Linked DNA regions of Homo sapiens: region 2 is linked to region 1. Evidence: fine-mapped expression QTL. A gene starts in region 1. The other region holds a variant in brackets. All regions are shown on one strand. Distances are between the middles of the regions. Region 1 holds the start of C2orf80 (chromosome 2 open reading frame 80). Region 2 overlaps C2orf80 (chromosome 2 open reading frame 80).

What was found. PIP is the estimated chance that this variant, and not a neighbour inherited with it, causes the effect. A credible set is the group of variants that fine-mapping cannot tell apart.
Region 2: its variant is the best candidate, but not a certain one, in a credible set for the expression of C2orf80 in cerebral cortex (GTEx, PIP 0.65).

The regions. Positions count from the first base shown.
Region 1 is chr2:208,186,974-208,192,361 of GRCh38, reverse strand. C2orf80 (chromosome 2 open reading frame 80) reads left to right here and starts at 2,332. Exons shown (of 9, transcript NM_001099334.3): 1 at 2,332-2,409; 2 at 5,301-5,388. The coding sequence starts at 5,376.
Region 2 is chr2:208,165,587-208,170,974 of GRCh38, reverse strand. C2orf80 (chromosome 2 open reading frame 80) reads left to right here. Exons shown (of 9, transcript NM_001099334.3): 8 at 1-30; 9 at 5,160-5,388. The coding sequence ends at 5,168. Among named protein-coding and RNA genes, the nearest start is that of CRYGA, 4.7 kb to the right of the region's middle. The variant C/T (reference allele first, on the strand shown) is at 2,712.

The DNA.
Region 1 (5,388 bases):
CACAGCTTACTACAGCCTCAGCCTCCTGGGTTCAAGCAATCCCCCCACCTCAGCCTGCTGAGTAGCTTGGACTGTAGGGACACACCACAATGCCCAGCTAGTTTTTATCATTTTTTGTAGAGACAGGATTTTGCCATGTTGCTCAGTCTGATCTTGAACTCTTAGGCTCAGGCAATCTACCCACCTCAGCTTCCTAAAGTGCTGGGATGACAGGCATGAGCTACCACACCCAGCCTACAGTTTAGTTTTAATTATAAACAAAATATTAGAATAAATTGAAAATGGCTGGGCGTGGTGGCTTATGCCTGTCATCCCAGCACTTTGGGAGGCCAAGGCAGATGGATCATTTGAGCCCAGGAGTTTGAGACCAGCCAGGGCAACATAGTGAGACCTCATTGCTACAAAAAAAAAAATTAATTAAAAAATAAAAAATTGTCTGGGTGCGGTGGCTCACGCCTGTAATCCCAGCACTTTGGGAGGCCGAGGCGGGCAGATCACCTGAGGTCGGGAGTTCAAGACCAGCCTCATCAACATGGAGAAACCCTGTCTCTACTAAAAATACAAAGTTAGCCGGGCGTGGTGGCGCATGCCTGTAATCCCAGCTACTCCAGAGGCTGAGGCAGGAGAATCGCTTGAATCCGGGAGGCGGAGGTTGTGGTGAGCCAAGATCACACCATTGCACTCCAGCCTGGGCAACAAGAGCAAAACTCCATCTCAAAAAAATGAATAAATAAATAAATAAATAAAAGTAAACAGTCATAGTAGAGGAGAGACTGAATTATTTTTTAATTCTCTCTATAGAAAATACTATGAAACCTTGGTCCTATTAACAGATAATCAAAGAGTATGTAAGAAAAAAAGGAATTTTAGTGTATGTTAGGCAGTTAGTAATCATGAAAATATTAATACTGATTTTTTGTTTGTGGTATTTTTCAGCTCTTTAAAATTTGTAACTTGTAATTAATAGTTCTAAATAAACATACAATTTTGTATTAGTTTCATATTTACAATTCTGCATTCTTTTTATTAAAGACGGTCCCCATAATGTATAAACTTCAGGCTCACCAAACCCGGAAGTGTCTAGGTACAATATAAACTCAATATGGAGTGAACAACTAGTTTAGAAAATTCTATATCTAGGGTTTTGTTAGTGTCTTTCATAATATGACCTCAGGTAATCAAGTGACTTACTTGGCCAGTGGAAAGGAGTGGAAATAAAGATTAAGAGGTGTCAATAACAGACACCCAGCCGTAGATGGGCCAGAAGAACAAACTCTGCCCCTAGTCTAGTGGTATAGAGGAGACACAGACAGAAACCATTAACAAGCTTTAAGCAAGGGAGCAAGTGTTTAAGACTAGGAGGCAGGCGTGTGGGCAGGGATTGTCAGGCCTCTGAGCCCAAGCCAAGCCATCACATCCCCTGTGACTTGCACATATACATCCAGATGGCCTAAAGTAACTGAAGATCCACAAAAGAAGTAAAAATAGTCTTAAGTGATGACATTCCACCATTGTGATTTGTTTCTTCCCCACCCTAACTGATCAATGTGCTTTGTAATCTCCCCCCGCTTAAGCAGGTACTTTGTAATCTCCCCCACCTTTAAGAAGGTTCTTTGTAATTCTCCCCACCCTTGAGCATGTAGTTTGTGAGATCCACCCCCTGCCCACAAAACATTGCTCCTAACTCCACCGCCTATCCCAAAACCTATAAGAACTAATGATAATCCACCACCCTTTGCTGACTCTCTTTTCGGACTCAGCCCGCCTGCACCCAGTTGAAATAAACAGCCATGTTGCTCACACAAAGCCTGTTTGGTGGTCTCTTCACACAGACGCACATGAAAGGGATCTCATCTATAATTAGAAAGATGGTGCTAGCTTGAACCCAGGTGATGTTTCTTCAGGATTGCCACTGTTTTGTATTGACATTCATCGAGTAGAATGATCTTTGGGTCATTGGGTACTTTGGGGCACCCTAACTATGTAGGAGCCAGAGTTTCACTAGCTTCCCCAGCAATCCTTGCTTAGTCAATTGATTCCTATGTCTGCAGCCAAATGCTATAAAAAACTCTGGGGAAGGTAAACTCCTCCCATCCTCTTGGTTTTTCAATTAATCATTTAGATGGGAAACATAAGCCTACTCAGGTAAAAAGACACGTGAACTTCAGGCCAGGATCACAATCCTGTCCCAAATATATGACTTTCCACCCTCCCTCAACCCTTAATGGGGGTGGGCGTAGGGGAGTGTATTTTTAAAACAAATGATTTTAATTCATTCACTGTTTCCTAGCAACCAGGAAAAAGCATGTGTTCCTGATGTCTGTGAGCACCAGTCTGAGATGCGCGGATGCTTCAGCATGCCTCCAGAAGCAGAGAAAGAACAAAAGCACTGGAACCGGTCTCCGGTTGGTGAGCGATTCTCAAAGGGGAATTTGTTAAGAGCAGGCACTTAATAGAACAGCCCGAGAGACCTGTACCACGATTGCAGGTGTGCAGCAGGGAACCTGCATGGAATGTGCAGATATTCTCCAGGAAATGATATTCCTATAGAATTTGGGGGCTCTGACTTCTAGGGAATTGTTTCTATGAAACAGCTAAAGCCTGAGACAGCTGACATCTTTCCAGTACCTCTTTTGTGTGTGCTTTCAGCCACACACAAAACACACAGCGGTCTTGTTTTCTTTAGAGCTCTATAGACAGAGAAGAGGGATAACTGGCAGAATTCAAATCTAGCTGAATTAGAATCCATGCAAATGGCCTTCTTTAGACCAGGCGTAGCTACTAAATGCATATAAATCACTGACTTCCACAGCTGTAAGGGACCTCTCCAATCATTCAACGCTTGTTTTACAGAGGAAGAAATGAAAAAACATAGGCAAATTAATTTGTTCAAGGTGCACAGCTAGTTGGTGGCCTCACAGGGTCTTCTGACCTACAGTTTAGTGGTTTGGGAGTGGGACATACTCATATTTTAAAGACTGAAACCTTTGCATATTATACCATATTGAATGGTGGTGGTGGGGGCAGGGGATGGGGAGGATGAGGGATGATCTAAGACGAAGCTGTCATAACAACGAAGCAATGCAAATATTATAACTTGTAAATCTGAAACTCAAAGGGCTTTCTCAGAATTACAAGACAAGAATGGATTAAAGCACATGCTAACTGTGCCTTACTCCCTGCCAAGGAATTGAGATAGGCCAAATAGTCTAGCAACAAATGTTTTTCCAAACTATTGAATCAGAAGAATTTTAATGCATGCCAGACTTTATAGAGTTACAGAATGTTAGGGTAAGAAGTGCTCTTGGCAATGTTAACCAGGCCCATCTTTTTCGGATAACACCTGAGGCTGGGAAGCAGAAGACGCACAGCCACATCAATGAGTGTGGCTTTCCTGGGTCCAGTGCTCTCTCTTCTCTAGGCAATAGGGCCACCTCTATGGCTTGCTGCATCCTCTCCCCATTGACTCTGTAGGGAGCAATATTATTGTCTTGATACTTAATCAATTTCCTGTGAAATGCTCTTACTTTCTTCCCCACTTTCATCTTATCCACATCCCGTCCACTCCCCAAAAACTAAAGCAGATGTAGCAGCAGCAAGAATGATCCAAAATGGCTGGGCACGGTGGCTCACGCCTGTAATCCCAGCACTTTGGGAGGCTGAGGCAGGTGGATTACAAGGTCAGGAGATGGAGACCATCCTGGCCAATATGATGACACCACCCGGTCTCTACTAAAAGTACAAAACAATTAGCTGGGCTTGGTGGCGTGCACCTGTAGTCCCAGCTACTTGGGAGGCTGAGGCAGGAGAATCACTTGAACCCAGGAGGCAGAGGTTGCAGTGAACCGAAATTGTGCCACTGCACTCCAGCCTGGTGACAGACCGAGACTCCGTCTCAAAAAAAAAAAAAAAATCCAAAATAATGAAGGTGGCCTAGGGAAGCATTCATTTAGATCAGCGCCATCCTGTTGGCTCTCTGCTTACTGTTGGTAGAGCTGAATCAAGTGAAGCTTAGTGTTTATATGGTACCATTTTCAAAAAACCGTTTCTAAAGTTTGTTTTCCAATCATCTTTAGAGTAGTGATTTAAATATACGTACAATTTTAAAAGTACAAAGGGTAGTATAATGAACATCCATGGACTTAGAATTCCAGAGTCAACAACTATTAACATTTTGTTATATTTGAGTATTAGGGTTCCTCAGAGAAATTGAACTGACAGGATGTGTGTGGATACACACACACACACACACACACACACACACACACACACACACGGTGCAGTATAGGCTTAACCATCTCTTTCAAATATTTTGATTTTACAGAATTGGCTCACATGATTGTGGAGTCTTGGCCAGTCCAAAATCTGATAGAGGAGGCCAGCTGCCAGCAGACTCAGGGAAGAGTTGCAGTTTGAATCCAAAGGCTGCCTACTGGCAGATTCCTTCTTGCATGGGGGAGGTCAGTCTTTTGTTCTATCAAGGCTTTCGACTGATTGGAAAAGGCTCACTCAGATAGAGGGCAATCTGCTTTCAAAGTCCACTGATTTAAATGATAATCTCATTAAAAAAAAAACACCAGAAACATCCGGGATAAAGTTTGAACAACTATTTGATCATAGAGGCCCAACCATAAAATAAATTTAAAAATAAATAAAACATCACAAATAGAGTTGATACCCTATTTATACCTCTCCCTGTGTACCCCATTCAATAGTGATGATTTTCTATAGACTCCTTTTTGGTGACTTCAGACTCCTTTTGACCCCATCACCTGATCTTCAATTTCTGGTTCAATGTGGGGGTGGGAATTGAAGACATATTTCCCATAACCATATTTTCTTTCAAGGATCTCCTGGCAATAGGAGAGTGTAGATGGATTCTATGGAAAACTCCATTATGAGCCACTGAGCCAGGGTGAACTCACTGGGAGTTGAATGCTCACAGAAAAACCCAAACACATTCAGATCTAGATGGATCACATCCATCTAGTTTGGATGGTTCTGCCCGAATAGTCTCATCAGCTATTACACAAACCATTTTGGTTTTACTTGCTAGATTATTGCAAGGAAGAGTAAATTAAGTAAATAAGTGTTGGAAAAATTTGGAAGGAATAAAAGGTGTCAAATAAACACAAAAGTACAGTGCATGAGCCTCCAGGTGGCTTTTTGACCCTGAACCTGCCGAGTAAGAGGCCTGAATGAGGTGCTCCCTCAGATCCCTTCCAGAGCCTAGGACTCCATGACTGGTATTTGGAGTGATAGCATCCCTAACTCATATTCTCTCTGATTTGCTGCTGTAGCCTCTAGACTCAGAGAAGCTGGGTCTAAGTGTAGTGTTAGCTGCAGATACCTGCTCAGCTGGCTAAGCCTTTAACATGGAAAGAAGGC
Region 2 (5,388 bases), 21 kb after region 1:
AGGTTTTCAGACACACAGCCAAAGCACAAAGTAGGTGTGAGATTGTAAATTGGACCAAACTGATACCAGCTATTTTGGGAGTACTTTCCTGATACCGTGGTTAAAAGTCTAGCCTTTGGAGTCAGGTGCTCTGGGTTTGAATCTAGAGCCGACTGCTTACCAGCTATGGGACATCAGGCAAGATACTTAAACTCTCTGTGCCTTAGTTTCCTCATCTGCAAAATGGAAGAATAATGATATCTACCTCTTAAGCTTGTTGGGGTGATTAACTGAGATTATTCATGTTAAAAGGTTAGAACAGTGCTTAGCATGGAGTAAACCCCAAATAAATACTAGCTATTATTATCTTTTCAGCATTTGAAAAATACTATCCACAAGTTAATTGGCTGTTACTCTGTTGATGCAAATAAGCATGTTGAGGAGAAAGTTTGTATTAATTTCTGTATCCCAAATGTTTCTATCCTTGATCCCTCTCTCAGCAATAATAATTTTCTTTTTTCCTGCTTAAAGTCTCCCCTGCTCCTCCCCTGTCCATCTGATTCCTGATTTATTTGTGGTGGAATTCAGAGAATGGTCGGAGATGGACAGGGTTGGAAAGAAAGGAGAAAGGGAGGAGGGCTCTTTGTTCTTCCAGCTCTGGGCTCTCAGCTGTAATGTGCAAAGTGAAGAGAAAATTTAAGAAGTCAGAGAGACTTCTCTGATCAACAGAATAAAAGCTGAGCGGGGAGAGAATCAGAAAAGTGGTACAGGGTGGGTGTCTGGGATTCTGGGATATTTTAGAGTTTTGTTGAATGAGAGATGTTAGATATGCTGGAAGGCTGTAAGGTAGAAAACGGGGAAGGGAACTTTGAGAACTGATATACTGACTTATGATTGGGTTTGCATCAGGAAACAAGTGACAATTTAAATTTTATTTTTATTTAGTTTGGCTGTTGTACCATGCATTTTTAAATTGAATCTCTGAATAGACTGGACTACATGAGGCTTAGGATTTATTCAGATTTCAGAGGCAAACTGTCTTCTCTGTCCCTTATATCTGATTAATTAGAAATGTAACCTTATCATAGCAACTGCTTTAGGAACTGATTGAATTCTTTGGTCATATCAGGGTTTTAATAAATGTTATTCTGATAACAGAACAACTGCACTATTTGGGGAAATTATCACCATATTCAATTTTCCTTCAAACATATTTGCTATAATAAGATTTGAAGGTATTAGATTTTCTTTTCTTTTTTTCTTTTCCTTTTTTTTTTTTTTTTGAGACAGAGTCTCACTCTGTCACCCACACTCGAGTGCAATGGCACAATCTCAGCTTACTGCAACCTCCACTTCCCGAGTTCAAGCGATTCTCCTGCCTCAGCCTCCCGAGTAGCTGGGATTACAGGTATGCACCACCACACCCGGCTAATTTTTGTATTTTCAGTAGAGGTGGGGTTTCACCATGTTGTCCAGGCTGGTCTCAAACTCCTGCCTCAGCCCCCCAAAGTGCTGGGATTACAGGCGTGAGCCACTGTGCCCGGCCGAAGGTATTAGACTTTCTAGAACCATATCTTTGTTTCTGAAGAATTTTTTGAAGAATTTGAAAAATGAGGTCATTTTTTATACGTGTTTGGAAGCAGCAAGTTTTAGAGAGCAAAACAAAACAACAATGAAAAAACAGTAACAACTCCAAAAATCACACACACACACACACACACACACAATCTAGACTTTAAACTTAATCACACACACACACAAAAAGATCTCTGAAACAGGGGTTTATAGACACCCCCCGCAAGCCTCATCAATGGACCCTATGTAAGGAAAACCTACCTCTAAAGATTACTCATTGGTATCTTATTTTTAAATATAATTTTGTTCCATATATATTTTCTTCCACAACCAATGAAGATTTTTTGATTCTTGATGGAAGCATATCTTTTATTTCCTTAGTATTTCTCACATGTATATAAAGTACTTCGCAGGCAGCAGAGATTCAGTAACAATTTTTATTTAGTGAATTGGCAGTAGGTAGTAAGCGAATAGTCCTTAGGTGACGGTTCTCAAATCTCTGTGCCCTGTCTATAGTGATCAAAGGCTCAGTTCTGGGGACCAGACCTTTCTATAGGCTGATTGATGCTTGCGAGCCCAGGAGTGTCGAAAGAACAAATGCCCATGTTTTAGTAGGGCCCCAGGTCCTGAGATGAATCCCTTCCAGAAAAGCCCTTTCTTAATAATCAAGCGACAGAAAACTCGTTTGTGTTTTTTCTTTCACACTTTATTATTTGTGCACTTTAGGCATTTTTTCCAACTCTTTTTTTTTTTTTTTTTTGAGACGGAGTCTTGCTCTGTCGCCCAGGCTGGAGTGCAGTGGCGCAATCTTGGCTCACTGCAAGCTCCGCCTCCCGGGTTCACGCCATTCTCCTGCCTCAGCCTCCCGAGTAGCTGGGACTACAGGCGCCCGCCACCACGCCCGGCTAATTTTTTGTATTTTTAGTAGAGACGGGGTTTCACCGTGGTCTCGATCTCCTGACCTCGCGATCTGCCCGCCTTGGCCTCCCAAAGCGCTGGGATTACAGGCTTGAGCCACCGCGCCCGGCCCAACTCTTGGGTAATGTATCTTTTAAACTAGTTTTAAAAATTTTAATAGTGTACACACTTATAAGTAAAATTTTCAAGCCAGACAAAAAATATAAAATGAAAAGCAAAAGAACTCCCTCTTCTTCACA[C/T]CCCTGTCCCACTTTTCAGAAATAACCACTGTTAATATTTCTTATGGTATTTAATTATTTGCTACACATATACATATAAACATACATATATGTATGTCTCACTGGTTTGTTAGAATTCTTTCTATATTAAAGGAATAAGTATTTTATTAAATGGATGAAAAACATGCTTTCACAGCTTGGTATTTGAAGAAGATTTTCATTTTAAATATTTGAGCTTACTGTTTTTCCTTTTTGGCTTGCAGATATTATATGTCTTTTAGCTGAAGAACAATTTTTTTAACCTCAAGATAAAACAATGCCTTATTCAGAATTTTTTATTTATTTCCAGCCACCGAATTTCTTCATAGAGTAAGAGAAAAGAGGAAATTATTAAAAAAAAAAAAATCACAGCCAGGCACGATGGCTCATGCCTATAATTCCAGCACTTTGGGAGGCCAAGGAGAGCAGATTACTTGAGGTCAGGCATTCAAGACCAGCCTGAACAACATGGCAAACCCCATCTCTACTAAAAATACAAAAATTAGCTGGGTGTGGTGGTGCACGCCTATAATCCCAGCTACTAGGGAGACTGAGGCATGAGAATTGCTTGAACCCAGGAGGCAGAGGTTGTACTAAGCCGAGATTGCACCAGCGCACTCCAGCCTGGGCAACAGAGCGAGACTCTGTCTCAGAACAAACAAACAAACAAAACCCTCAGTGTTCTGGGAAACAGTTTTTTGTTTGTTTGTTTTTTGTTTTTTTTGAGACAGAGTCTTGCTTTGTTGCCCAGGCTGGAGTGCAGTGGTGTTATCTCGGCTCACTGCAACCTCTGCTTCCCGGGTTTAAGCGATTCTCCTGTCTCAGTCTCCTGAGTAGCTGGGATTACAGGTGTGCACCACCACACCTGGCTAATTTTTGTATTTTTAGTAAAGATGAGGTTTCACCATGTTGGTCAGCCTGGTCTTGAACTCCTGACCTCGTGATCCACCCACCTCAGCCTCCCAAAGTGCTGGAATTACAGGCATGAGCCACCGCGCCCGGCTAGGAAACAGTTTTAAAGATTTTTTTTTTAAATTGCATTGTCCTAGGAAAGCGTCAGTAGTGGGCACATTACTAGGAAGTAAATTTGGAATGAACACGACCATACTAAAGAGCTAGAATACAGCATACTTCTTGAATCCAGGCTACCCACTTAATAACTTGAGTGAGTTACCTAATCTCTCTGTGCTTTTAGTTTTTCATCTCTTTAAAAAGTCATAATAGTACCTACCTCATAGGGTTGTTATAAGCATTAAATAAGTTATATGTGTAAAGGCTTAGAAAAGTGTCAGGACAGGCCAGGCATGGTGGCTCACGCCTGTAATCCCAGCACTTTGGGAAGCCGAGGCGGGCGGATCACGAGGTCAGGAGATCAAGACCATCCTGGCTAACATGGTGAAACCCCATCTCTACTAAAAAATAGAAAAAATTAGTTGGGCGTGGTGGCGCCTGTAGTCCCAGCTACTTGGAGGCTGAGGCAGGAGAATGGCATGAACCCAGGAGGCGGAGCTTGCAGTGAGCCGAGATCCCGCCACTGCATGCACTCCAGCCTGGGTGACAGAGTGAGACACCGTCTCAAAAAAAAAAAGTGTCAGGACAGTGGCAAGCAATAATATAATCGCTCTCTTCATCACCACTCATGAGAAATTCATGCTATCATGAAAGGAAATGAGACATAGAGAGAGGACAATTTAAATTTAAATCCAAAGCAATACATCAGAAATTCAAAATAATATCCTACAAGCATAATACATAACTGCTAAAAGGCCAAAAACTGATTTGCTTTGGGTAGGATTGGTTAAGAGAAGTATAACTTTTTAATGTAAAAATAATTTCAAACTTAGAGAAAATTTGCAAGAATAATATACAAAGAACCCACGTATTCCTTTTATACAGTCACGAATGGTTAATGTTTTGTTCTGTTAGCTTTATTATATTCTGTCTTTGTCTCTCTGTATATAGATAAAGATATATAATTTTTTTCTGAGCCATTAGAAGTTATGTATATATACTCTACCACTTTACTCTATGTACCTCTGTGTGTATTTCTTAAGAACAAAGTAATTCTCTTAAATAACCATAGAATAGTTATCAACTTCAGAATATCTATTATTGGTACTTTTATTTAATGTACTCTCTATACACCAATTTTGTCAATTGACCCAATAATGTTCTTTTTAAGCATTTTTTTCCTTCTGTATAAGATCCAGTATGGGATCACATATTGCATTTAGTTGGGAAATATAACTCAATTTCCAAATATATCAGAATAATTCCATGAAAATTCCTTTGTAATTACATTAATCTAATCTATCTTTGTCAGTAAGTTAGTATCTGATATTTGACCTTAACTTCCTATAGACTTAAAGTAATGTCTGTGTCCATGTTAAATTGATGTGCTTGATACCAAAATCATCTTTTATTCTGCAGGTCACTTAGAAAATTGGAATTGTACCATGGAACTTCATAATAGATTCTCTGGGAGCAGACGAGAAGCATCATCTTAAAACCACAGCTCTTGCCAGTACATTTTTCTTTACAACTGTTTTTGGTACAACTGCACTGAAGTGTTATTTTTGATGTTGAGCTTTCTTCTTTTAGAAGCATATTGCATGGCTACATTTTCTTAAAAAAAAAAACTGTGACCTTATGCTACTTC